7 linked regions of the Homo sapiens genome follow. The protein of the gene in region 6 interacts with the protein of the main gene of each other region in a biochemical or structural test. Each region holds a gene or a part of one and is shown on either strand. Other genes may lie near its edges.

Region 1 (3,500 bases), on a different chromosome or scaffold from region 6:
AGTGATGTGATCTTGGCTCACTGCAACCTCCTCCTCCCTTGTTCAAGCAATTCTTCTGCCTCTCCCAAGTAGTTGGGATTACAGGCACCCCCCCCACCACGCCCGGCTAATTTTCTGTATTTTAAATAGAGACCGGGTTTCGCCATGTTGGCCAGGCTGGTCTTGAACTCCTGAGGTCAGGCCCGCCTCGGCCTCCCACAAGTGCTGGGATTACAGGCGTGAGCCACTGCACTGGGCCCAAGAATTCTTTATGTATTCTGCAAACAAGTCCCTTATCAGACACAAGATTTACAGATTATCTTCCACCATTCCGTGAATTGTTACTTAACTTTCATGATGGTGGCCTTTGAACAAGTTTTTAATTTTTATGACGTCCGATTTCTTTTGTTGCTTGTGCCTTTGGTGTCAATCCTAAGAAATCATTGCTAAATTCAAAGTTGTGAAAATTTGCCCCCTTAATTCTGAGTTTTGTCCTTTATATTTAGGGCTTTGTTCCATTTTGAGTAAACTTATGTGTATGGTGTGAATGGAGGGGTCTAAATATAGACTTTGGATGTAGATTAGCAGTTGCCCCAACATGATTTGTTCAAAAACTATTTTTTCCCCATTGAATGATCTTGGCAACCTTTAAAAGAGTCACTTATGGCTGGGTGTGGTGGCTCACACCTGTAATCCCGGCACTTTGAGAGGCTGAGGCAGGCGGATCATGACCAGGAGATTGAGACTATCCTGGCCAATTTGGTGAAACCCTGTCTCTACTAAAAATACAAATTTTAGCTGGGCATGGTAGCGTGTGCCTGTAGTCCCAGCTACTCAGGAGGCTGAGGCTGGAGAATTCGCTTGAACCTGGGAGGCAGAGGTTGCAGTGATCTGAGATTGCACCACTGCACTCCAGCCTGGCGACAGAGCGAGACTCCGCCTCAAAAAACAAAAAAATCACTGTTTCTGGACTGTTCTGTTGATGTGTCTATCCTTAACATGTAAGAACAGTACAACACTGTTCCTCTGTGGTTTTTATTTATTTATTTTTTTGAAATGAGTCTCACTGTCACCCAGGCTGTAGCACAGTGGCGTGATCTTGGCTCACTGCAACCTCCGCCTCCTGGTTCCTCCTGCTTCAGCTTCCTGAGTAGCTGGGATTACAGGCGCCCGCCACCATGCCCGGCTAATTTTTGTATTTTTAGTAGAGACTGGGTTTCCCCATTAGCCAGGCTGGTCTCAAACTCCTGACCTCAGGTGATCTGGCCGTCTCGGCCTCCTAAAAAGTGCCGGGATTACAAGCGTGAGCCACGGTGCCTTGGCCCCTTTGTAGGTCTTATAGCTGATTTTTTGAAATCAAGTGTGAGTTTTCTAGCTTTCTTCCTTTCCAGATTGCATTTGGCCTCTTTGGGTCCCTTAAGTGTCTTTTTTGTTTTTGTTTTTTGAGATAGGGTCTTGCTCTGTCACCCAGGCTGGAGTGCAGTGGCAGAATTACACAGTTACAGTTCACTGTCTCAAGCAGATCCTCCTGCCTTAGCTTTTCAAATAGCTAGGACTACAGGCGCACACCACCACGCCTGCTAATTAAAAATTTTTTTTGTAGAGAGGGTTCTCATTATGTTGCCTAGGCTGGTCTTGAACTAAAACGATCCTCCCACCTCAGCCTCCCAAAGTGTTAGGATTATAGGTGTGAGACACTGTGCCAGTTCTTGGGTTTGTTTATAAATTTTAGGATCTGTTTCTACAGAGAAACCAGCTTGGGGAGTCTTCTAACGATTGTATTTAACCTGTATATTCGGGGAGTGTTTCCATCTTGGCAATATCTGAACATGGAATGTTTCTATTTAGGTCTTTAATTTTTTTTTTTAACACAAATTCACTCTGAGTGTACAGTTTAATAGAACTATACATTACTTAAATATACATACATTATACAGTGGTATAGTGTGTATTTATGCAAAACTACTCATTGAGCAACTTCATTTCCCAGCCCCTAGCGATCACAATTATACCTTCTATTTCTTTGAGTTTGACTACTTTTAGATACTTAATGAATAGAATCATACAGTGTTTGTTCTTTTGTGGCTGGCTTATTTCACTTTGTTCAAGGTTCAGTCATGTAGCATGCAAGAGGATTTTCATTGTGTGTACATATACATTTTCATTTAGTCATTTAACACTTGGGTTGCTTTCACCTCTTGGCTGTTGTGAACAATGCTTCGATAAACATGGGTGCACAAATAATCACTTCAAGGTCCTGCTTTCAATTCTTGTGTCTACTCCCAAATTTTGAAAGTGCTTAATGTCTTGACATTTCATTTGTAGTGATGATGATGATGATTTTGATGATGAGGAAGCTGAAGAAAAAGCGCCAGTGAAGAAAGTGAGTAGATACAATGCTACAAGGTTGTTAAACTAACAATAGAAATGGTGATTTTTTAGTGCTATTTGCTTGTTTTGTAGTTAAGGGAAGCTGGTGTGGGAGATCATCTCATACTGAAAATTAGTCCTGAGGAGGATTACAGAAAACTTAAGAGTGGGGAATGGTCTGTTTTCTTTATCCATGTGGCCCTCCACCCAGTTTGTTAGTCTTGTGTAACCTTTTGTCCAAGTGGTTGCTGCTTTTTCCTTCCTTTTTTTTTTTTTTTTGAGACGGAGTCTCAATGTCACCCGGGCTGGAGTACAGTGGCGCGATCTCAGCTCACTGCAACTTCTGCCTCCCGGGTTGAAGCGATTCTCCTGCCTCAGCCTCCTGAGTAGCTGGAATTACAGACTCATGCCACCACACCCAGCTAATTTTTGCATTTTTAGTAGACCACCATGTCGGCCAGGCTGGTCTCGAACTCCTGACCTCGTGATCCACCTGCCTCGGCCTCCCAAAGTCCTGGGATTACAGGCATGAGCCACCACGCCAAGCCTGTGGTTGCTGCTTGTCTTACATGGCTTGGACAGCTTTGTTTGCACTGTTGTTGGGGTCAGGGACAGTGATTAAGATAAATTTCTAATTGCAGTCTATACGAGATACTCCAGCCAAAAATGCACAAAAGTCAAATCAGAATGGAAAAGACTCAAAACCATCATCAACACCAAGATCAAAAGTAAGTGGCTACATTTACACGTGGGTCTCATTGATCTAGTTGGGGAAAAAGATTCTACTGTGGAAGAATCTAGTGTGTCTGAAATTTGATAGGCCTTTATAGAACCCCTGTAATTGCTGTTTAAAAGTTAAAATCAGCTTGCTGCAGCCAGGCTCAGTGGCTCACTCCTGTAATCCCAGCACTTTGGGAGGGAGGCCAAGGTGGGTGGGATCACCTGAGGTCAGGAGTTTGAGACTAGCCCGGCCAACATCGTGAAACCCTGTCTTTACTAAAAACACAAAAATTAGCCAGGCATGGTGGTATGTGCCTGTAATTCCACCTACTCAGGAGGTGGAGACAGGAGAATTGCTTGAACCTGGGAGGTGGAGTGCAGTGAGATTGCACCACTGCACTCCAGCTTGGGCAAAAGAGCGAGACTCCGCC
Region 2 (3,500 bases), on a different chromosome or scaffold from region 6:
GAGAAACAATATCACATATGAGATGATTTGGTTAACTGATGCAAAGAGTGGGACTTGGGCTAGGTGAGTTTTGACAGAGGTAAGGGAGTTGCATTGCCTGAGGAAGAGAGTTAATATGGTCAGTATGAAGCTAAATAGAGAGGAAGAAAGAAATGGGATGTGGGCCCTATAGGATACTTTATCTATCTTATGATTTTGCCCTGACTAGAGCTGGATTGCCCCAGTACTTTTGGAATCTCACTGGACTCTGTTCACTTAGTCCCCAGCAGGTACATCTTTTGATGCCTTCACCCCAAGCCTGGTAGCACAAGCCCTAGCTGAGAAAACCTTAACATCTATTTGTTGGCTGGTGGAAATTCCACTTGCTCTGAGACCCTCCCGTGCTCCTTCTCCCAGGTGCTCAGGCCCCACACCTTCCTCCGACTGGCAGGTCCAGGTTGGAGGAAGCTGAGCTGACTCAGAGCTCTGCACATGGGCTCAGGGCTGAGCGGGACTCACTGCTGGATCAGATTGTCTCCTTCACCATCCTCTGTACTTGTCTCCTTGACCATCCTCTGTTCTTCCTGAGGCTGCAGTGGAGTTAATCATCTGCCCTCTGCCCTCCCTTTCAGAGTTACTAGTTCACCTCATCCGTTCTTAACCACAGGAAGGTGGCCCCCAAAGCTGCTGAGCAGTAGCAACAGCAGTGGCAGGGGCCCGGGGGCCTTCCTGGACTGTGGCCTCTTTCCTCTAAACAATTTTCACTTGTTGGGTCCTCCTCTATGCCTCACTAAATGTGTGAGAACTTGTGTTGAAGTTATGTTTTCGTAGTAGCATTTCATCTCCCCTATCTGGTGTGTGTACCCCTCTGGGACAGAAACTGAGGTCTTTCTGTATCAGTCACAATACCCTGGACATAGTGACTTGTCTACTTGCCTTTTCACCGTATCTGCTTTGCACCCCTGCCCTGGCACCCACCCCTTCCAGGCCGTCCATGGAAACTCATTCCAACCATCTTCCTCCTTCCCACACTGGACTGTTGGGGGCTGCAGGAGAAAATTCAGCAACAAAGAGCAGCTACAGATTCGTAATCTCCAACCCCAGCTGGACTCTCAGTGTCCTGGGAATCCTCATTTCTGGCCCACAGCTTCTCCTGTTCCCCAAAAGGTGGGAGAATTCCACACCTTCGTCATCTCTTTCAAGGCCCTGTTCCACTATCTCAGCCTCCACAAACCAACAACCTCCTTCTTTAAGAAAACAGAAGCACAAGTTAGGGATTCCACCAACCTTGCCAACAAGTCTCCAGTGTCAATGTACTTCATCTACTCCTGTAAATGGCCACATTTGCCTCTGCTGAGGGCAAGAGTGTTCTTGCCCTGTCCTTGACCAATACTCCCCTGTGTGCTCAGGGCACCAGAGCTTCTTTCAGAAGTCACCTGGGACCTGCTGTCTGTGAAGACATCCCTCATCTTTCTTCAGCTGCTCCTTTTCTGTGGGCTTCCTACCTTTAGTACAGTTTCCTTCCAGTTGAAAAATCAAAACAACACCTGGTGTTCTCTCTAGCTCCTTTTTATTTGCAGACAAACCAGTCTTAAATGTATAAACTAATATAATATTACATAAAAATAAAATATAACGGCCTAATTTTTAAAAAGACCCCAAAGGCAGTATAGCATGAGGACTGTAGATCACACATTTCATTCTTTAAGTATTTAGAAGTCTATGGCTGGGAGTGGTGGCTCACGCCAGAACTTTGGGAGGCTGAGACGGGTGGATTACTTGAGGTCAGGAGTTCAAGACCAGCCTGGCCAATATGGCGAAACCCTGTCTCTACTAAAAATACAAAAAAAAAAAAAAGAATAGCTGGGGGTGGTGGCAGGCACCTGTAGTCCCAGTTACTCATGAGGCTGAGACAGGAGAATCACTTGAACCTGGGAGGCAGAGATTGCAGTGAGCCGAGATCATGCCACTGCACACCAGTCTGGGTGACAGAGCGAGACTCTGTCTTAAAACAAACAAACAAACAAAGAAGTCTAGACAATAACTTAACCATTTTCCTGTGTGATTCCTATTCAGTTTTATAATAGCAGAGAACAACCTTCTTCTACATAGCGCTCTACATTCTGATCTACTGGTGGATTATATGGGAGTTTACGTTATTTTTCATTACACCGTATATTTATATTTAAGTACCTTTTAATACTTGTGCTACCTCTCACAATTTTATAAAAGATAAAAATAAAGTGAAACCACCACTAAACACCTGAAAATTAAACTCATGTTCCATCACCCCATTCTCCAAACCTGCTCCATCTTTACCAGACCCATAAGCCACACGTGTGTTTTGTGTTCCCTTAACCATGCTACTGCTGGGTCCATAATACCCACCTTCCCTGTTCCTTTCTGCATACACCAGGCAGGCCTTGGCTTTTTCTTTCAATGGCAGCTCCCACCCACCGCCTCTGGGCAGCCACTCCTAACTCTGCAGGGCAGAGGAAAACATGCTTTCCTTATGCTTGCCTCACACCCTGGGCACACCTCCATAGCACATTCCATATTGCATTTCAGTTGGCTGTTTTAGGTCTATCTTCCTTTTTCACTTTTTTTTTTTTTTTTTTTTTTTTTTAGGCAGGGTCTTGCTCTGTCACCCAGGCTGGGGTGCAGTGGTGCAGTCATGGCTCACTGCAACCCCTGCCTCCCAGGCTTTTCTGATATTTAGCTAAGAGTTGGGTTTAGCTGAGATGAGTGAGGAAATCTACAAATTCACTTGCTATGGTAATGTTTCCACAATGGGCAAGTCATATTTTGCTTTTATCAAAGTACATCTTAGTTAATAGTCAGAACAGTTGAGTGAGAGGTAGTCATTACTCTTTTTCTGCTTTTTTACCAAGATACAACTCACAGCTGTGTGCACAAAATTTAAATCAACAGCTTGATGAACTTTTATATGTGTAAGTACATATCAAAACTACCCACATCAAGATGTAACACATTTCTAGCACCCAGTCATTCCTTTTTGGCCCTTCAAGTTGATAACCCCCCTCCTGCAAGGGTAATCACATTCTAACCTCTCTCACCATATATTAGTTTTTCCAGATTTTAAACTTTATATCAGTGAAATAATTCACTATGTACTTTTTGGAGTCTAGCTTCATTAATACTCATCATTGTGGTGAGATCCATCCACATTATTGCCAGGAAAAGTAGCTTTTCTTTTTCATTGCTGTGTAATATTCCTTATAAGACTATAACACGATTTATTTGCTCATCTAATCGTGATAGACATTTGGGTTTTTTCTCATTTTGAGTTATTATGACTAAAGCCATTATTAACACTCTTGTACATATTTTTAGTGGATATAAACACCAGATTTTCTTTTTTTTTGAGACGGAGTTTCACTCTTGTTGCCCAGGCTGGAGTGCAATGGCATGATCTTGGCTCACTGCAACCTCCGCCTCTCAGATTTAAGTGATTCTCCTGCTTCAGTCTTCCAAGTAGCTGGGATTACAGGTGTGCACTG
Region 3 (3,500 bases), on a different chromosome or scaffold from region 6:
CTTTTGCTTGGAAAAAAATTCAGCATTAGAGAGGATGTTTTTTAGAAATTCTAAAGGACTTTGTCTCATTTTCAATTATGCATTTTATTTAGATATATCTAGATATAGCCAAAGTCCCTTTATATGGCAATTATAAAGCCTTTGCTAACCAAAGGAATGGTTCTAAAATTCGTCTTCCTTGTATAATGGAAAATTATCAATATTGCCTTGGTATTGAAGAAAATGTATAGTAGCATTGAGGTGGTACTCTTATATACCTTAGTAGATAAACGATGAACAAGTTCAGTTCCCATTTCTTTTTTGCAGGTAACTCAGTCTTGCTTTTCATTCTATAAAAGTACATATAGCTTTCGTACATATTTAAGATACATCATTATATCTCCAAAATCATGGGGTTATTTTTCATTTGAGAAGAAAAATGTTAATAAAAGTTAAGTGGTGAAAAAGGTGTTAAATATATTTTCAAGAAAGCATCAATTCTCTTTCTTACAAGTGTTTACTGTAAGCACATCTATCGGTACAATGTTTTCTTTTTAATTTGAAATTCTCATATATATATATATAAAAGGGGGCTTTTTAGAAGAAGGTGTTATTTTTTTCTTCACAATATGTCTAAATAAATATCTGTTAGTATAACTGCAAATCGCTTGGAAATACTATAACTGTTCTGTTGTGATGAAATGACTCCAGTTATATCAGTATTCCTTTTTTTTGCTCTTAAACTCAACTGCTTTTATTTATTTTAATCATGTATGCATAGAAAGTGAAATTTTGTTGAAAATCAAGGCACTTACTGCTTTATATATATATTTTCATTTAGTCACTGGAAATGTGTCTTAATTAAGAAATTACATTAGAATATTTATCAGAGCATGAACTTTGTGGAAGATTTATGCATTTTTTATTCTAACCTGAACACAGTAAGTTTGCATTGGCTGATTTTTAGAGTTTGCATTTATTTGATGGAAAATCGTATTTCCTCCTCAAAGTGGATTCAAATATGTAGTATTCATGAGCTTTCATCCCTTTGGTTTTTAAATAGAAGTACTATTTATCATCTGTCTTATGCATTCACCCTTTCTGTTACTATAGATTCTCTCTTTACATCTTAGTATTTATTGAGTTTACATGTGTTAATATATATTTTCCCTTCCGCCACTAAGTATATTGTTTTTGTTTGTGTCTTTCCCAGTAACCTGCCACTCAGCCACTGCAGGAGTCCTCTGAGCCAGTTTTCATTCTTTCTGATAAATCTGATATGGCTGGTTGGCCAGACAATCACAAGCCATTCCATTGCTCAGATTTATTCCTGAAAGAAAATAAAAAGGCATCGATCCAAGATCACTGGCACATCTTAAAAGCCTTGACTCCAAGGCCAAACCTTTCCACAGAGAAGTCCCTCTTACCCTTTTTCTTTCTTTCTTTTCCCCTCTTGACCAAGGAAGGAAGGTGGACCACTGCTATTTAAAAAATGCTAGTGAGGCAATGAATTGTGCTCTTTCTAAGTACTCTTGGAAGCTTGATTAGAGCCACCTTGAGATTAATGGCTATGCACAGTGCATATTTTAGACAATAAATTGAATTAGGATGGCTTAAACATTGCAATGCTTTAAAGCGGTATTATTTTTGTGTTATATCAAGCTGGTTATTAGGAAAAGTTAACATGTTCTTAAAAATAGCCATAAGTTTTGGCTTTATATTATAGTGTTCTGCTACTGTTGGATATCCATGTATAGTTTGTAAGTGCCTAAAACATAAATGAAATAAATGATCAAAACGGATTTTCTGATACCTACAAACTTGTTGGTACTTGCTCTGTTTAATTTTACCAGTTTTGAGAGATACTGCTTTGTTGAGATGCTAATATTTGTACTGAAATTAGTTTTTAGAGGTTCAAGCCTACATCTGTTCTACAGAAATTAATCACCAAGCATATTCCACTGTTATCTTTTACAGTGATCTACTGAGTATCCTGTGCAGGGTAGAATTTAATCATATTAACAACTTTTCTCCAGGTTATATCATTTTAGAGATGCTCTATTATGTTACATTTCACCATATGGAACCAAATTACATGTTTTATCTAATACTCATTTTCTGAAGTATTATAAATATTGGCAGTCAGAGTTAAAACCTTACTTTTTATGATTTCTAATACAGCTATTGACTGGAGTTTTCAGTTTATAATGAAAAATAACCCCTTTTTATGAAAAAATTGTAGGTCAATGTTTCCTGAAACTGTATGTCTTCAACATAATTTGAGGGAGACTTTAATTGCCTATTTTGTGGTTAAATGGGACATGGGACGTAGTCACATTGTTTAAATCAGGATTTCTACCTTGCAGAGACAGTTCTCGAGTTTCTTAATACCTTCAGCAACTCACTGCATCTCTTTGTGACTTGGCTTCTCTGCCTGGGAGAGAAATGCATATAATGCACTATTTCTGCACTGTACAGTTTTATGAAAATAACTTTAAAGTCTTTGATATTGAGATACATTCCACTAAATTGTTTTTATAGATGTAATCTAAATTGCACATGTAATCTAAAACATGTATACCTATATTAAGAAACATAATGTAAACTTTCTAGCAAACTGTCTCTATCAAAAGAGTACCTGTCTAATGAAATAAAGAGCTTATTAACTCAAAGGCATTTGTATTTGAGGGCAATTTCCCCAAAATATTATTTTCAGAATTGTTCTATGGTCTCTTTTATTTTTTCTGAGTTGTTGGTTATTCTGAAATATTTATTAAATAAATTGCCGTATTTTCCAATTCTGTAATCAAGATTTAAGGCCACTTCCTTGTTTTCACACTTGATACTTAAACTAGTGCTTTATATTTATACAAACTTTTCAAGAGAGGAAAGCTGTCCCTTTTACAATATGGAGTTGAAATATGTGGATGTTTTGTTAACTAATTCTAAAGAGGCTATGTAGCATGTAATAATTGTTTTAGAGTTATTTCCATTTTGAATTGTTCTGCAGGCCTGTCACTTTGCACAACTCCAGGGGGCAGCAGCCACATAGACTTTAATAGGAATAGTGCATGCCTTAGCTGTGGGTAGTACAGCAACAGCCTTGCTATTGTGTGATGCTAGCGAATAAAGCACTAAAAGTTAGGAGGTTTGGATTCTGGTCATACAATCATTTGTTATGTGATCTGGGATTAGACTACTTGCTTCTGTCTCAATCGCCTTACCTTTATTAGTGTAGCTAAAAGTCATGCCTAAGCTATTAACATCTTGAATGTTTTTAATAATTCAATTAATTAGAAATGGAAAGTTTAGACTTTTTAGAAAAAAAGTTTATTGGTTTTTAATTATTTTTGTAAGTGGACCTCTTTTTTGTTGTTGTTGTTCCAAGTGAAGTCATAGGCATAGCCCTAGTTTCTAAAACAGCTGAAAGGGTAAAATAAAAAGAGAGCTGTGTAGTTAAGCTGCAGGGAGGAGGCAGCTTTGAGGCCCCTGCCGTTGACATTCCCTCACTTTCCTTTCAC
Region 4 (3,500 bases), on a different chromosome or scaffold from region 6:
TAACAATTTTTGTTGTTTTCTCCAAGGTTTTATGAAGCTGCACTTTTTTTTGGTCTAAATTGCATATTCGAAATATTAATTATTTAGGAGCTTTGGCAGCCTACAGTTTTCCAACTGAAGCATCATGTTACAAAGGAACTGTAGGTGACTACTTACTCCAGTTCCTCAAATATTGTTGCTTACTATTTTAGCACTTTGTTACATTTTTAAAATTTCCCTGTTGGACATTCTATAATAGGCTATCTGGTTTCTTTTCTAACGATCACCAAGTGGGTACTTTGTTTTCGTATGTAAAATGAAGACGTTAGTATAGGTGGTTGATTTCTAAGGCCCTTTTCTGACTCCAAAATTCAATGAATGATTCCAAGAAATGGCCTGAACACCGTGTCTGTCTTTCTCTTTTCTCTTCCCCACCTTATTTATATTTGTATATAGAGTGGATGAGAAACCATATGATGCTGGGGCTGTTAGGATGAACTGGGTTTCCCCTGCTAATCACATTAAACTTTCTTTTTCTTTAGTAGCATGTACCTAAACAGCCAGTCAATTTGGCCTTGAATAGGCTGTTTTGGAAGAGATGGGCTGGTAGAGGATGCCTGAGCCAGCAGTCATCTTTATCTTGGGCTTTTTTCACTAGCAGAATGTATAACTCTATAAAGTAGATGCTCCCTCAAAACTCTAGTTGCATTAACTCTTCTAAGGATAGCAGTCATTTTAAACCCCTATTTATTTCTTGAATTTTTAAAGCTAACACTTATTTGATTAACAGAATGGCTTTATTCTTTTAAAAAAAGTTCCAGATTTTAACAGGGATACTAAACCCCTTATTTAAAATTGAGTCTACTTTACGTGACTTTTAAGAAACAAACCAAGTAATTACTTTGTTCTTTCCAAAAATGATCGAGACATTTCTAAGTCTACTTTAAATTTATTTAATATGGAAGTTGAAGGTGATGTGTTACCAAAAAATGGTTTCATATTGACCAAAATAATGTAATGTCCTCGAGGAAGGTTATGCAGCCTATTGAGATCTACACAGCAGAGTTATGGCTGATATTTGACCTGGCTTGGGCAGTTGGGCAAGACAAGAACAAATAACAGAGTAAGTAGCTTCTGTAGTGCTTTAAACTGATATGTGTATGTGGGTGGGGATAAGAATGGAGAAAAAGTGAGAGAAGCTATCTTGGCACGTGAATGTTAAATGCGAAGCCTGCTGGTGTTAGTAGAGGCCAGGCGTGTCTAATTCTTGGTTTGGATCTCACAGTTAGGGGTGTGTTGGGTATCAAGTAAATATCATCATTTTTCAGTGCATTTGTCATTGCAGGTAGGGGAGGAAGGGCATTTGAAATCATACCAGACTTTTTTTTAAGTAAAAATATATTACTGTGAGTAGTTAAAAGTATAGACCATCTGTGGCATTTGGTTTAAGCAATTTGGTAGAACCGAACAGTCCATTCTGCTCCATTGGCCTTCGTTTATAGGAGAGGCTTGTAAGAAATGACAAGATCTCCTGCCAGATGCTTTCCAGGATCACTGGTGGTTCCTCACACTCTTGGGTGCTGTGGAAATTGCATGCTGCTGATTAAATTGCTGGATTTTATACCAGATTGAGGGAGGGGAAGGAAATTGGAGGAATGGGGTATTTGAGGGAGGGCTTGAAAAGAAAGCCTCTGACTTAGCTCACGGGGCTGCAGGGGGGTTCATTAAGGAAACAGTTGCATTGAGTCTGCTGAAGATAGTGGACTAGATTTCCTGCATTGCCGCTGGGGCGGATGTGGGGAGATGTCAAGAATTCCTGGGGATTTCCCATCCATCTTGGTAAAGCTGGATGCCTGAAAGCTGTTTCTGATTGCTGCTCCTTTCCTCAATTTTGAGCTCTTTGAGGAACTTGATCTTGTCTCACAGATACACACACACGTTGTAAGAGCTAGATGGAACCTCATTGACCCAATCTACTCATGCCAGAGATGAGAAAACCGGCCCAGAGGAGGCCAGTGCTGTTTTTCAAGGTCAACAGCTGGCTAGCGGCAGGCCTAGGAACAGAACCTGATGTTCCTGCTACAGACAACATCTCTTCTTCACTGGTGTATTTCCTCTTCCCCAGACGGAAGACAGATGTTCAAATATTTATTGACTAACATTATTACAGTGCTAAAATTTCTTTCGAAATGACATCTTTTTAATATGAAGTTTTCTTCTATTTTCTTAACGCACATAAGGGGTTTAAACTAAGAATCAAAATGATGGCTGCTTAGTAGCATGCCAAGAGATTTGATGAGAAGATTAACTTTCCTTACGAGCACTTGGTATCCTTTTCCTGAACAGCTGTGGCTTACATACTTGTGGCTTATGGTACTAGCTTTGTCTTTCGCCACTTCTCTCCACACACACACTGGGTTCCAGCTACACAAACTCTACCCTAGTCAAACAAATTATTCCCCCTTCTTCAGAGGCGCCTTCACTTTCATCACTCTGTTCATGCTGCTCGTCTGCCTGCAAGACCTTTTCCCTCCCTCTGTGTCTCCTCCTCTCCTGCTGGCAAGATCCAGCCCAGTAATCACCATCTCTGGGAGCTCCTCCTTGTAGCTCCCAGACAGCACTTGCCATTTCTTCTGCTCTCCTGTAGCCCTGAGGTGTACTCCTCCTTCAGTAATTCTCACTTTGCATTGTCAGGATTTTATGTGTCTGTGTCCTTTCTCTTTGGTAGAGACCCCATGTCTTAGCTGTCCTTAGACCGCTGGCACCTAATATAAAGCCTAGTACAGAGACTCTCGGTAAGTGTTGGAACGAATGAGTAAATGAATGAATATGTGGCCACACTATCATTTCGCAGAAGCAATCTCAGACACAAATTTATTCCATGAGTTTATTCCAGTATAGTAATGTGCTCCTGCCTGTTCATTTGGCCTCATTTACAAGGGATTACTTAAAGTAACTGTTCTCAACAGATAATATTTGTCCTCTTCAGTGAGCGATTGAGATGTATGAGATCAGCTATGATTTTCAACTCTTTGAGAAACTGTCTCATGTCCTCCCCTCCTGTGTGGGCATGATGCTTCGCTGGGGCCTGTGAGCCACCAAAGCCAGGCTCTGGTCACTGCAGAAGTCCTGTGTTAGCCTCTGTTGGTGAGGTGCTAAGCACCTCAGCCTTTTCCTGCAGCGTGTTATACAATTTTTAGAGAGAACAGAGTCCTCAAATTTTAGGGTTTGACTTTCTTGCCCTCTCTTAAACCCAAGTCCTTGGGTGCTGGGCTGAGATGCATACCTGAATGACAGAGGTCTGGCCACAGTCAGAATCAACTCTGTTTTAATAGGGGCCTTGGTTACAGGACCACACTGGTCTGTCTAACTTCCTCTTTCTTTAGGATGAGGTTTCCTCAACCCTTCATATAAATGGGTTCCTGGCAGGACTACCCTGCTAGGTGCGAGACATGTTCTTAAAAATTGGAATCCCATGGCTTGGGCTCGAGCTGGTGCCTCCCTATCCTCACCCCCATCCC
Region 5 (3,500 bases), on a different chromosome or scaffold from region 6:
TTTGTGCTGAAGATGATGAGGTATCTATTAATAAACTTGTGCTGCAGCCCTCCCTGTCATGACAGGGCAGCAGGTGGGTCAAGGATGTTGTCGTCATTACCACAAACAGCCTTTGAGGGTCTGCTTGTGGCCTCGGGTTGCCTGGATAGTTAGTGTTAGAGTGATTGTGTTGTTATGGTTGTCCCTACCTTAATGATGATAACTGGGGTTGCTCCAAGATATTGAGCCACTTGTTTAAGGTCATGCTGGCCCAAGGAGCTGAGCTAAGATTGAGTCCTCTGTGCAGTATGTCCCAGGACAGAGAAAGAGCACGTATTCCATGCCGTTGGTTCACTTAGATCATTTTCAGCAGTTATGATTGATTGATTGATTTAGAGGCGGGGTCTCGCTCTGTTGCCCAGGCTGGAGTTGAGTGGCACAATCTTGGCTCACTGCAACCTCCGCCTTCCAGGTTCAAGCAAATCTCCTGTCTCAGCCTCCCAAGTAGCTTGGACTACAGGCATACGCCCCCACGCCTGGGTGATTTTTGTATTTTTAGTAGAGACCGGGTTTCTCCGTGTTGGCCAGGCTTCTCTCAAACTTCTGACCTCTGGTGATCCACTCACCTTGGCCTCCCAAAGTGCTGGGATTACAGGTGTGAGCCACCACACCCAGCCTAGTTTTGGTTTTCAAACTAATATGACTTCCTTTTGTGAAGCTGCTGGAAGGCCCTGGAGGCTGGGCAGAGCTTTAGGCCACAGAGAAAATTTGAGCTAGTTGACACTCTCCTATCAGATACACACATAAATAACTTCACCTAGATCCTATTGGAATGAGAAGGACTGTGTGCCTTTGCCCTCGTTATCTAGTGTATAATTCTTGAGGGAAAAAACTGCCTCCAGAGCAAAACATTTTGTCTCTTCAGTCTCACTTTTTTCTTTTTGAGACAGGGTCTCGCTTTCTTGCCCAGTCTTGAGTGCAGTTGCAGATTCAGTTTACTGCTGCCTCGACCTCCTGGGCTCAAACAATCCTCCCATCTCAGTCCCCACCCAGTAGTTGGTACTACAGGCACACACTGCTGCGCTTGGTTAATTTTTATATTTTTTAGGCCGGGCATGGTGGCTCACGCCTGTAATCCCAGCACTTCGGGAGGCTGAGGTAGGCGGATCACCTGAGGTCAGGAGTTCGAGACCAGCCTGGCCAACATGGTGAAATCCTGTCGCTACTAAAAATACAAAACTTAGCCAAGTATGGTGGCATGTACCTGTAATCCCAGCTACTCAGGAGGCTGAGGCAGGAGAATTGCTTGAACCTGGGAGGCAGAGGTTGCAGTGAGCCGAGATCGCATCACTGCACTCCAGCCTAGGTGACAGAGTGAGACTCTTGTCTCAAAAAAAAAAAAAAAAAAAGTTTGAAAATTTATTCACCAAAAGTGGCGACAGTCAATTTATTCAAATTCTATGTACCTCAAACTCCAGGAAGGGGGTAGACTATTGGTATAATTTCACATATTCAGGAAATAACTACAGCACCTACTAACAGAACATCTATTCTAGGCCAGGCACTGTGGCTCACACCTGTAATCCCACCACTTTGGGAGGCCAAGGTGGGTGGATCCTGAGGTCAGGAGTTCAAGACCAGCCTGTCCAACATGGTGAATCCCTGTCTCTACTAAAAATACAAAAAAATCATCCGGGCGTGGTGGCGAGTGCCTGTAATCCCAGCTACTCGGGAGGCTGAGGCAGGAGAATTGCTTGAACCCGGGAGGCAGAGGTTGTAGTGAGCTGAGATTGCGCCACTGCGCTCCAGCCTGGGCGACAGAGCAAGAGTCCATCTAAAAAAAAAAAAAAAAAACTTCTGTTCTAGATGAGGGAAGACAGAATAGGCTCCCCTCAATGCCCCCAAAAAAGTAAATCAGAAAATAACAACAGTAAACCCAGTAACAGTAAATATTACAAATAACATTTGTAGAGGTGGGTCATGGTTGTATGCTGTTTTGTTTTATTTATTTTTATTTTTGTTTTTTTGAGACAGACTTTTGCTCTTGTCACGCAGGCTGGAGTGCAATGGTGCGATCTCAGCTCACTGCACTCCGCCTCCCGGGTTCAAGCACTTCTTCTGCCTCAGCCTCCCAAGTAGCTGGGATTACAGGCATGCACCACCATGCCTGACTAATTTTTGTATTATTAGTAGAGACAGGGTTTCAACATGTTGGCCAGACTGGTCTCAAACTCCTGATCCACCTGCCTCGGCCTCCCAAAGTGCTGAGATTACAGGCCTGATGAGCCACTGCACCTGGTCTATTTATTTTTATTTATTTATTTATTTATTTATTTTGAGACGGAGTCTCGCTCTGTCGCCCAGGCTGGAGGGCAGTGGCACGATCTTGGCTCACTGCAACCTCCACCTCCCTGGTTCAAGGAATTTCCCTGCCTCAGCCTCCCTAGTAGCTGGGATTACAGGTGTGCACCACCATGCCCAGTTAATTTTTTTGTTTTGTTTTGTTGTTTTTGAGACGGAGTTTCGCTCTTGTTGCCCAGGCTGGAGTGCAATGGCACGATCTCGGCTCACTGCAACTTCCGCCTCCCGGGTTCAAGCGATTCTCCAGCCTCAGCCTCTCAAGTAGCTGGGATTGCAGGCATGTGCCACCACGCCCAGCTAATTTTGTATTTTTAGTAGAGACGGGGTTTCTCCATGTTGGTTATGCTGGTCTCCCAACTCCCGACCTGAGGTGATCCACCCGCCCCGGCCTTCACAGTGCTGGGATTATAGGCATGAACCACTGCGCCTGGCAATCTTTTTGTATTTTTAATAGAGATGGGGTTTCACCATGTTGGCCAGACTGGTCTCGAACTCCTGACCTAACGCGATCCACCTGCCTCAGCCTCTCAAAGTTTTGGGATTATAGACGTGAGCCACTGCGCCCAGCCTATTTATTTGTTTTTAAGAGATGAAGTCTCACTTTGTCACCCTGGCTGGAGTGCAGTAGTAGCGTGATCATAGCTCACTGCTACCTTGAATCCTGGACTCCAGTGATCCTCCCACCTCAGCCTCTCAAGTAGGTGGGAATGCAGGCACATGTACCACTGTAAACTGCTAAGTTTTTGTATGTTTTTGTGGAGATGGGGTTTTTGACTTTTTTGATACAGAGTCTCACTCTGTTGCCCAGGCTGGAGTGAGTGTAGTATTGCGATCTCGACTCATCACAACCTCCACCTCCTGGGTTCAAGTGTTTCTTCTGCCTCAGCCTCCCAAGTAGCTGGGACTATAGGTGCACACCACTGCGCCCGGCTAATTTTAGTAATTTTAGTAGAGATGAGGTTTCGCCATGTTGGCCAGGCTGGTCTCGAACTCCTGACCTCTGGTGATCCACCCACCTAAGCCTCCCAAAGTGCTGGGATTACAGGCACGAGCCACCACGCTGTCTGGAGATGGGGTTTAGCCATGTTGCATAGGCTGTTCTTGAGCTCCTAGGCCCAAGCTGTCTACTTGCCTTAGCCTCTCAAAAGTGCTGGAATTAC
Region 6 (3,500 bases):
GGACCCTGATAGCACCTACCTCCTGGGTGACTGAGGATCAGAGGAGGGGGCGCCTATATAGAGCCAGCCCTCCCTCCGCAGTGCTTGATCCACTCAGTGTGGCGCTCAGCCCCCTCGGGGAATTTTGGTGCCTCCTCCCAGGCTCTTGGGGCCCAGAGGAGGTGGTCCCACCCTCCCCTCCCCTCCTTGACACCACCTTCCAGGAGAGAAAGCCCCCCCCTTCCCCCTTCTTGTCCATCCTGTTGCCAGGTCCAGCAGTGTCCCCAGCCTCACATCCTGGGCAGGACACCCCTGGAGAGCAGGGGCGCTTGTTCTCTCAGTTTCTTTCCTGGAGCCAGGCCCTGTCTAGCCCCAGGAGGTGCCCAGTTGCCAGTCATTGTATTTGGTGGAGCATGCACCTCCTCCTTCCTCCCTCTCATGGGTTAGTGGGTTCTGAGGACCAAACTCCCAGCATCCCAGTGGGCAGCAGGTAGGGACCTGCTGCCATGCTGCCCCCAACAGGGAAGTTGTGAGTGAGCCCTGCCTTCTGTCTTGGATAGGCTGACTGCCACCTTGGCACAGGCCTCAGCAGTGCCGGTAGGAGGGGAGGCCTGGAGTGTGGTTTTTCTTCCTCCCATGCCTGACCCACTTTACTGAATCTGTTCACATCTTCCTTGCCAGAATTACAGGTTTTTTTTGTTTGTTTTGTTTTTGTTTTTTTTTTTTTTTTTTTTGCTCAGATGAGGAACTGAGGTCCAAAGAAAGGAAGGGACTAACCTCACCCCATGGGTTCTGATCCAGTCTTGCCCTCAGGCCTCCAGGTTCCCAGAATAGTGTTGTTTACCTGTCCAGCCCCAGGTGGGCTCGACCCACAGGTCAGAGGTCATGAGAAGCTGGATGAGACCACTGGGGATGTCCCTGTTTTCTCAGTATATCAGCCAAGGACCTGAAGAACATGCTGTCCCAGGTCAACTACCGGGTCCCCAACATGCGCTTCCTCCGAGAGCGGCTGACGGTAAGTGCCACCCAGGGCTGTCTGTAGATGGGGGCAGGGGAAGCCAAGAGCCCTTCAGCTGGGGGCCTGACTGCCTGACTGGCACTCCTGCTCTATACCATGCAGGACCTGGAGCAGCGCAGCGGGGACATCACCTACGGGCAGTTTGCTCAGCTGTACCGCAGCCTCATGTACAGCGCCCAGAAGACGGTGCATGAGCCACCTGCCCTCCCTCAACCCCTGCCCCTGCTCTTCCACCCCACACCCCAGCTCTGCCTGCCTCAGCCCTGCTGCCCTGCTTAGGGGCTTTTGGGTGCCATTTCTCCAGTTCTTCTCCTCTTGAGGCCTGCCCCCATCTGCTGCTCTAGCCTGCCTTCTTACTAGCCCATTTCCCACATGGCCTCCCAGGGGTCTTGCCCTGACCAGGTTCTGTTTCCTGCAGATGGACCTCCCCTTCTTGGAAGCCAGTACTCTGAGGTTTGGTTTGGAGTGGGGAGGTGGGGTTTTCCCTGGGCCCCCTTCATCTCTCCACTGGGCGATTCTTGATCCAGGTGGGAGGCAGTGGGAGTAGGGAACCATGCTGGACCATTCTGGGAAGCTGTGCTGGCTGGGAGTTGGGTTCTGCCTTCCGTGGGGCACCTTGTTGTCTGTTGACCATACTAGCTAGCTTACCTTCTCTCCCTGCAGGGCTGGGGAGCGGCCGGAGCTTTGCCGAGTGTCCCTTCCTGAGTTCCAGCAGTTCCTTCTTGACTACCAGGGGGTATGGCTGGGCTGACATTGGCCCAGGCTGGTAGGTTGTGGGGGGCTGGGCTCATCCCTGACTGGAGGCTTCTCTCATCCCCTGCCCTCCCTACCCCATCAGGAGCTGTGGGCTGTTGATCGCCTCCAGGTGCAGGAGTTCATGCTCAGCTTCCTCCGAGACCCCTTACGAGAGATCGAGGAGCCATACTTCTTCCTGGATGAGGTGAGCCCGATGTTTCACCCATTTTTTGTCAAGAGAATGAGTAGGGGTGACCAGGACCCCACCCGGGCTCCAGGAGCTAGACGCTCCTTAGGGATGCCACCTTGTTTCTACCTACTGTGCACCTTGCCCACCCCCAGTTGGGACAGAGCACTCTCTCTCCTACCCCCAACCTACCATCTTGGGTTGGACAGGGCAGGGACTCACTGTCTCTTCCCTTCCACATGTTTCTGGACAGTTTGTCACCTTCCTGTTCTCCAAAGAGAACAGTGTGTGGAACTCGCAGCTGGATGCAGTATGCCCGGACACCATGAACAACCCTCTTTCCCACTACTGGATCTCCTCCTCGCACAACACGTGAGTGTGGCTCCTTCAGGCCCACCCAGCTTCTTCCCCAGGAGGGCCCATCTGACCATACCTACCTGCCTCTCCTTGCCTATCCAGGTACCTGACCGGGGACCAGTTCTCCAGTGAGTCCTCCTTGGAAGCCTATGCTCGCTGCCTGCGGATGGGCTGTCGCTGCATTGAGTGTGCGTGGGGTCCAGGGCTGGGGGAGGGAAGATGGGAGGCCTGCCCGCTTGACCATGGTGATGTTGCTCCCCAGTGGACTGCTGGGACGGCCCGGATGGGATGCCAGTTATTTACCATGGGCACACCCTTACCACCAAGATCAAGTTCTCAGATGTCCTGCACACCATCAAGGAGCATGCCTTTGTGGCCTCAGAGTGAGTCGGAGGCTGGATGACCCAGGGGTTAACTTGGCTCCAGGTCTCTCGTTCTAGAGGGACAGAGGGCAGAAAGACTCCTCAAATGCCCTGTCCCCTCTCCCTCAGCCTTTCATCTTTGTCCTTCCTCTTGGCCTCTCCTCGTCACCTGCTCCCTGCTTGAGCTGTTGCTTCCCAAGTTACACTTTCTGTTTCCTACGTGTTGGGCCCACTCTCTTCTTCATGGGTCCTTTAGACTGTAGAACACATGCTCTTCTCATCTTCAGAAAACATGCCCTGGTTTCTTTAGGCCAGTGTCCTGCCAACTCCTTTGCCCTCACAGCCCAGAAGATTGTCTCTGTTCCCTGTGTCCCATTCCTTCAATTCTGTTTACTGCTTAAACTGTGGTCACTGGTCTCCCTTAGCTCACCAGGGCTCTAACAGCTAACTTTGGAGGCTTCTCCTCTCTCCTGGCCTCTTTGGTGTGAAACATTTTTCTTGCACTGCTGAGCAGCCTCCATAATTGGGCCAGCTCGGGACTGCATCAGTTGCCACCCTTTGGTTTCCACTGCTGCCACAGCTGTAGAACCCCTCTCTGCCCCACCAGTGGCTATGGCCTGCCTCTTTTCTGGGATAGTTTTTACAGACAAGAAGCCCCCAGGCCCTTGGCTTCCAACAGCTCACTGTGAGGGGCTACTTAGACCCAGAGAATTGCAGAATCTGTTTCACTGTGCTTGTCCCCCATCCCGCAGGTACCCAGTCATCCTGTCCATTGAGGACCACTGCAGCATTGCCCAGCAGAGAAACATGGCCCAATACTTCAAGAAGGTGCTGGGGGACACACTCCTCACCAAGCCCGTGG
Region 7 (3,389 bases), on a different chromosome or scaffold from region 6:
TCATGCCTGTAATCCCAGCACTTTGGGAGGCCGAAGCCTGAGGTCAGGAGTTCAAGATCAGCCTGGCCAACACAGCGAAACCCTGTCTCTACTAAAAATACAAAAATTAGCTGGGCGTGGTGGTGGGCGCCTGTAATCCCAGCTACTCCGGAGGCTGAGGCAGAAGAATTGCTTGAACCCAGGAGGCGGAGGTTGCAGTGAGCCAGGATCGTGCCATTGCACTCCAGCCTGGGCGACAAGAGTGAAACCGTGTCTCAACAACAACAACAACAACAACAAAAAAGATTTCTTTTTCGTGGCCAGGTGCAGTGGCTCACGCCTGTAATCCCAGCACTTTGGAATGCTGAAGTGGGTGGATCACCTGAGGTCGGGAGTTCGAGACCAGCCTGACCAACACGGCGAAACCCCATCTCTACTAAAAATACAAAATTAGCTGGGCGTGGTGGCGCATGCCTGTAATCCCAGCTACTCGGGAGGCTGAGGCAGGAGAATCGCTTGAACCCAGGGCAGAGGTTGCAGTGAGCTGAGATCTCGCCATTGCACTCCAGCCTGGGCAACAAGAGCAAAACTCCGTCTCAAAAAAAAAAGATTTTTTTCTCTTTTTGTTTTTTGGTGTTCCTGCTTTACTGATACTCTAAACTGATTAGTCCTAGTAGCTGGGATCACAGGCGCCCGCCACCACACCCAGCTGATTTTTTGTATTTTTAGTAGAGACGGGTTTCACTATGTTAGCCAGGCTGGTCTCAAAATCCTGACCTCAGGCAATCCACCCGCCTTGGCCTCCCAAAGTGCTGGGATTAGAGGCGTGAGCTGCCGCGCCCAGCCTTGCCTATTGAGAATCTAGTACTGCCTCTACCTCTGGCTCCGGGAGTACCTATGCGGTGCTACCTCTTGTCCTGCTCAAAAGGCAGACGCCCCCATCTCCCTCCCACCCTGTGGCATCCCGCCCCAGCTCTACCCGAAGCAGTGCTTCCGCAGACTCAAGGCAAACCTGCCCGCCTGATACTCTGCCCCATTCATGAGGGATGGTTCCGTCTCTGTGTCCTCGATCAGCACGGCCAGCTCACTGTCCCGCTTCCCCAGCAAGCTCCGGTCATTGATGTTTGCAGAACCTGGGGTGGATGCGGGGCACACTGTGTGCTTGGGCCCAGGGCACTCTCCCCAGTACCCCATCCCCTCTACCAAAGCACTGGCCTGCAACATTCCTTCTTGGACCCTCCACCCCTACACGAGCCTCAGCTGCAGTCTCTGTCATCCTGCCTCTCATCTCTTCGCCTGTCCCCACACCCTCTCCCTGCCAGAGGACTAGATCCGGCACTGACCAATGATGACTGTCCGGTCATCTGCGATGAGCACCTTGCTGTGGATGTAGATGAGCTCCGAGACGGGGTGCCCGCCCAGCTCTCCGTGTGTACGAAGCCCGCAGATGGAAATATAGTCCCGCCATGCTGTCCCCACTGCGTGACAGGAGGGGAAGTGAGGTGAGAGGTGGCTCTGTGTGCACAGGGCCCTGTCCCACCTCCTCTCACTCCAGAAACTCTTCCTACATAGAGTCTGGTCTCTCTCCTTCTCCCTGCAGTGAAAGGCCAGCTATGGTCTGCGTAGCGTCAGAGGCTCACAGGAGTGACAGCCTCCTTCCCCCACCCCCAGGCCTGCAGCGCCCCAATCTCCCTCTCCCAGGGGCCCAGGGCTTGAGCCCCCAGCCCCCAGCACTCACTGGCTGCTTTAAGGCGATGCAGGATTGAATACTCCCCACGACACAGGGTCCTGAGAGAAAAGAAAGAGGGAGAGAAGTGGAGGCTGGCAGAGGGGAGGGGAGGTCAGGAGAGGTGGCCCTTCTTTAAGGCCCAGCAGGAAGGGATCAGGACAGAATCAGGAGGGGGACACGGGTGGGATGGGGCCACTGAGAGCTGGAGTCCGCCTGGGGGGTCACCTGTAAGTAAAGTGCAGAATGGCCTGGATGGAGTTGCCACCGCCCGTGGAGATGTCACCCTCGAAGCCAGGGAGTAAGGGCAAAAGCACGTAGACTCGGTAACACCACCCCTGTCTGGGGAGGGGGTGGAGTCAGAGGTGCGACTGGTCCCTCAAACCCCACCCCCTTCAACCGGGCTCAAACCACACCCACAGTCCCCACCTTCCTGACAGTCCACCTTACTTGTGGGCCTTCAGGATTCTGTCCACAATCTCATCGCCCACCTTGTTCAGAACCGTCCGCCCATCTGAGCAGCTAATGAAGAACTGATTCTGGGGCAAGAATCAGAGACAGACATCAGCAGCCTGGCCCCTGGCCCTGTCCTCGGCCTCCAGCCTTGGTCCCAGGCTCCAGGCGTCTGCTTCTGCTCCACCAGCCCTCAATGACTGACTCCACTCATTCCCCAGGTCTCTCTCCTGGGACACCCCTTCCATGCTCTCCCCCACCTCCTCCCAGTCAGACCTCAATGTAGAGGAAGTGCTGGCTCTCCCTGATGGTGTGCAGGTAGGCATTGAGGATGGAGTTCTCCAGAGTCCCTGCTGACCAGCGGTCCACTGATCGCAAGACCTAGGGAATGGTGAATGCGATGTGCTTCATTTCTTTTCTTTTTTAAGACAGAGTCTCGCTCTGTTGCCTAGGCTGGAGTGCAGTGGCATGATCTCCGCTCACTGCAAGCTCCTCCTCCTGGGTTCACGCCATTCTCCTGCCTCAGCCTCCTAAGTAGCTGGGACTACAGGTACGCACCACCACTCCCGGCTAATTTTTTGTATTTTTAGTAGAGACAGGGTTTCATGGTGTTAGCCAGGATGGTCTTGCTCTCCGGACCTCGTGATCCGCCTGCCTCGGCCTCCCAAAGTGCTGGGATTACAGGCGTAAGCCACTGCGCCTGGCCTTTTATTTTATTTTTGAGATGGAGTCTCACTCTGTTGCCCAGGCTGGAGTGCAGTGGCGTGATCTCAGCTCACTACAACATCCTCCTCCTGGGTTCAAGCGATTCTCCTGCCTTAGCCTCCCTAGTAGCTGGGACTACAGGTACGCACCACCACGCCCGGCTAATTTTTTGTATTTTTAGTAGAGATGGGGTTTCACCATGTTAGCCAGGATGGTCTCGATCTCCGGACCTTGTGATCCGCCTGCCTTGGCCTTCCAAAGTGCTGGGATTATAGGCGTGAGCCACCGTGCCTGGCCGTGATGTGCTTCTTAACCCCAGGAAAGGAGAGTGTGGGCAGCTCTCACACCAGGGAGAGTGGGTTGGGGTGTTAGGCTGAAGGAGACAAAGGGGAGGGCTGGCTGAAGTGGGGGGCCTCACCTGTACGGTGGTGCACTGCCCTCCTGGAAGTGTGAAGGGGAGCTGATTGGCCGTGCTGGTAGACTTGGGAAGCAGGTAGGGGTATGTGGGAGTCTTGTACTTGGCCTT

The links.
Region 1: the proteins of PLCG1 (region 6) and NPM1 form a complex in vitro, tested with the Homo sapiens proteins (one study listed by BioGRID).
Region 2: the proteins of PLCG1 (region 6) and CD244 interact in a biophysical measurement, tested with the Homo sapiens proteins (one study listed by IntAct).
Region 3: the proteins of PLCG1 (region 6) and ERBB4 form a complex in vitro, tested with the Homo sapiens proteins (one large-scale study listed by BioGRID).
Region 4: the proteins of PLCG1 (region 6) and FLT1 form a complex in vitro, tested with the Homo sapiens proteins (one study listed by BioGRID).
Region 5: the proteins of PLCG1 (region 6) and RHOA form a complex in vitro, tested with the Homo sapiens proteins (one study listed by BioGRID).
Region 7: the proteins of PLCG1 (region 6) and PLD2 form a complex in vitro, tested with the Homo sapiens proteins (one study listed by BioGRID).

Annotation. Positions count from the first base shown.
Region 1 is NC_000005.10:171,397,849-171,401,348, forward strand, and holds part of NPM1 (nucleophosmin), read left to right. Parts: intron 1-2,304; coding exon 2,305-2,362; intron 2,363-2,990; coding exon 2,991-3,077; intron 3,078-3,500. UniProt on the Homo sapiens protein: Involved in diverse cellular processes such as ribosome biogenesis, centrosome duplication, protein chaperoning, histone assembly, cell proliferation, and regulation of tumor suppressors p53/TP53 and ARF.
Region 2 is NC_000001.11:160,852,888-160,856,387, reverse strand, and holds part of CD244 (natural killer cell receptor 2B4 isoform 1 precursor), read left to right. Parts: intron 1-3,500. UniProt on the Homo sapiens protein: Heterophilic receptor of the signaling lymphocytic activation molecule (SLAM) family; its ligand is CD48.
Region 3 is NC_000002.12:212,532,303-212,535,802, reverse strand, and holds part of ERBB4 (receptor tyrosine-protein kinase erbB-4 isoform JM-a/CYT-1 precursor), read left to right. Parts: intron 1-3,500. UniProt on the Homo sapiens protein: Tyrosine-protein kinase that plays an essential role as cell surface receptor for neuregulins and EGF family members and regulates development of the heart, the central nervous system and the mammary gland, gene transcription, cell proliferation, differentiation, migration and apoptosis.
Region 4 is NC_000013.11:28,488,629-28,492,128, reverse strand, and holds part of FLT1 (vascular endothelial growth factor receptor 1 isoform 1 precursor), read left to right. Parts: intron 1-3,500. UniProt on the Homo sapiens protein: Tyrosine-protein kinase that acts as a cell-surface receptor for VEGFA, VEGFB and PGF, and plays an essential role in the development of embryonic vasculature, the regulation of angiogenesis, cell survival, cell migration, macrophage function, chemotaxis, and cancer cell invasion.
Region 5 is NC_000003.12:49,363,477-49,366,976, reverse strand, and holds part of RHOA (transforming protein RhoA isoform 1 precursor), read left to right. Parts: intron 1-3,500. UniProt on the Homo sapiens protein: Small GTPase which cycles between an active GTP-bound and an inactive GDP-bound state.
Region 6 is NC_000020.11:41,161,543-41,165,042, forward strand, and holds part of PLCG1 (1-phosphatidylinositol 4,5-bisphosphate phosphodiesterase gamma-1), read left to right. Parts: intron 1-909; coding exon 910-994; intron 995-1,099; coding exon 1,100-1,183; intron 1,184-1,415; coding exon 1,416-1,450; intron 1,451-1,660; coding exon 1,661-1,733; intron 1,734-1,835; coding exon 1,836-1,937; intron 1,938-2,172; coding exon 2,173-2,291; intron 2,292-2,378; coding exon 2,379-2,464; intron 2,465-2,538; coding exon 2,539-2,659; intron 2,660-3,390; coding exon 3,391-3,500. UniProt on the Homo sapiens protein: Mediates the production of the second messenger molecules diacylglycerol (DAG) and inositol 1,4,5-trisphosphate (IP3). Plays an important role in the regulation of intracellular signaling cascades.
Region 7 is NC_000017.11:4,817,152-4,820,540, reverse strand, and holds part of PLD2 (phospholipase D2), read right to left. Parts: coding exon 3,282-3,389; intron 2,540-3,281; coding exon 2,435-2,539; intron 2,245-2,434; coding exon 2,156-2,244; intron 2,048-2,155; coding exon 1,934-2,047; intron 1,768-1,933; coding exon 1,718-1,767; intron 1,458-1,717; coding exon 1,323-1,457; intron 1,113-1,322; coding exon 959-1,112; intron 1-958.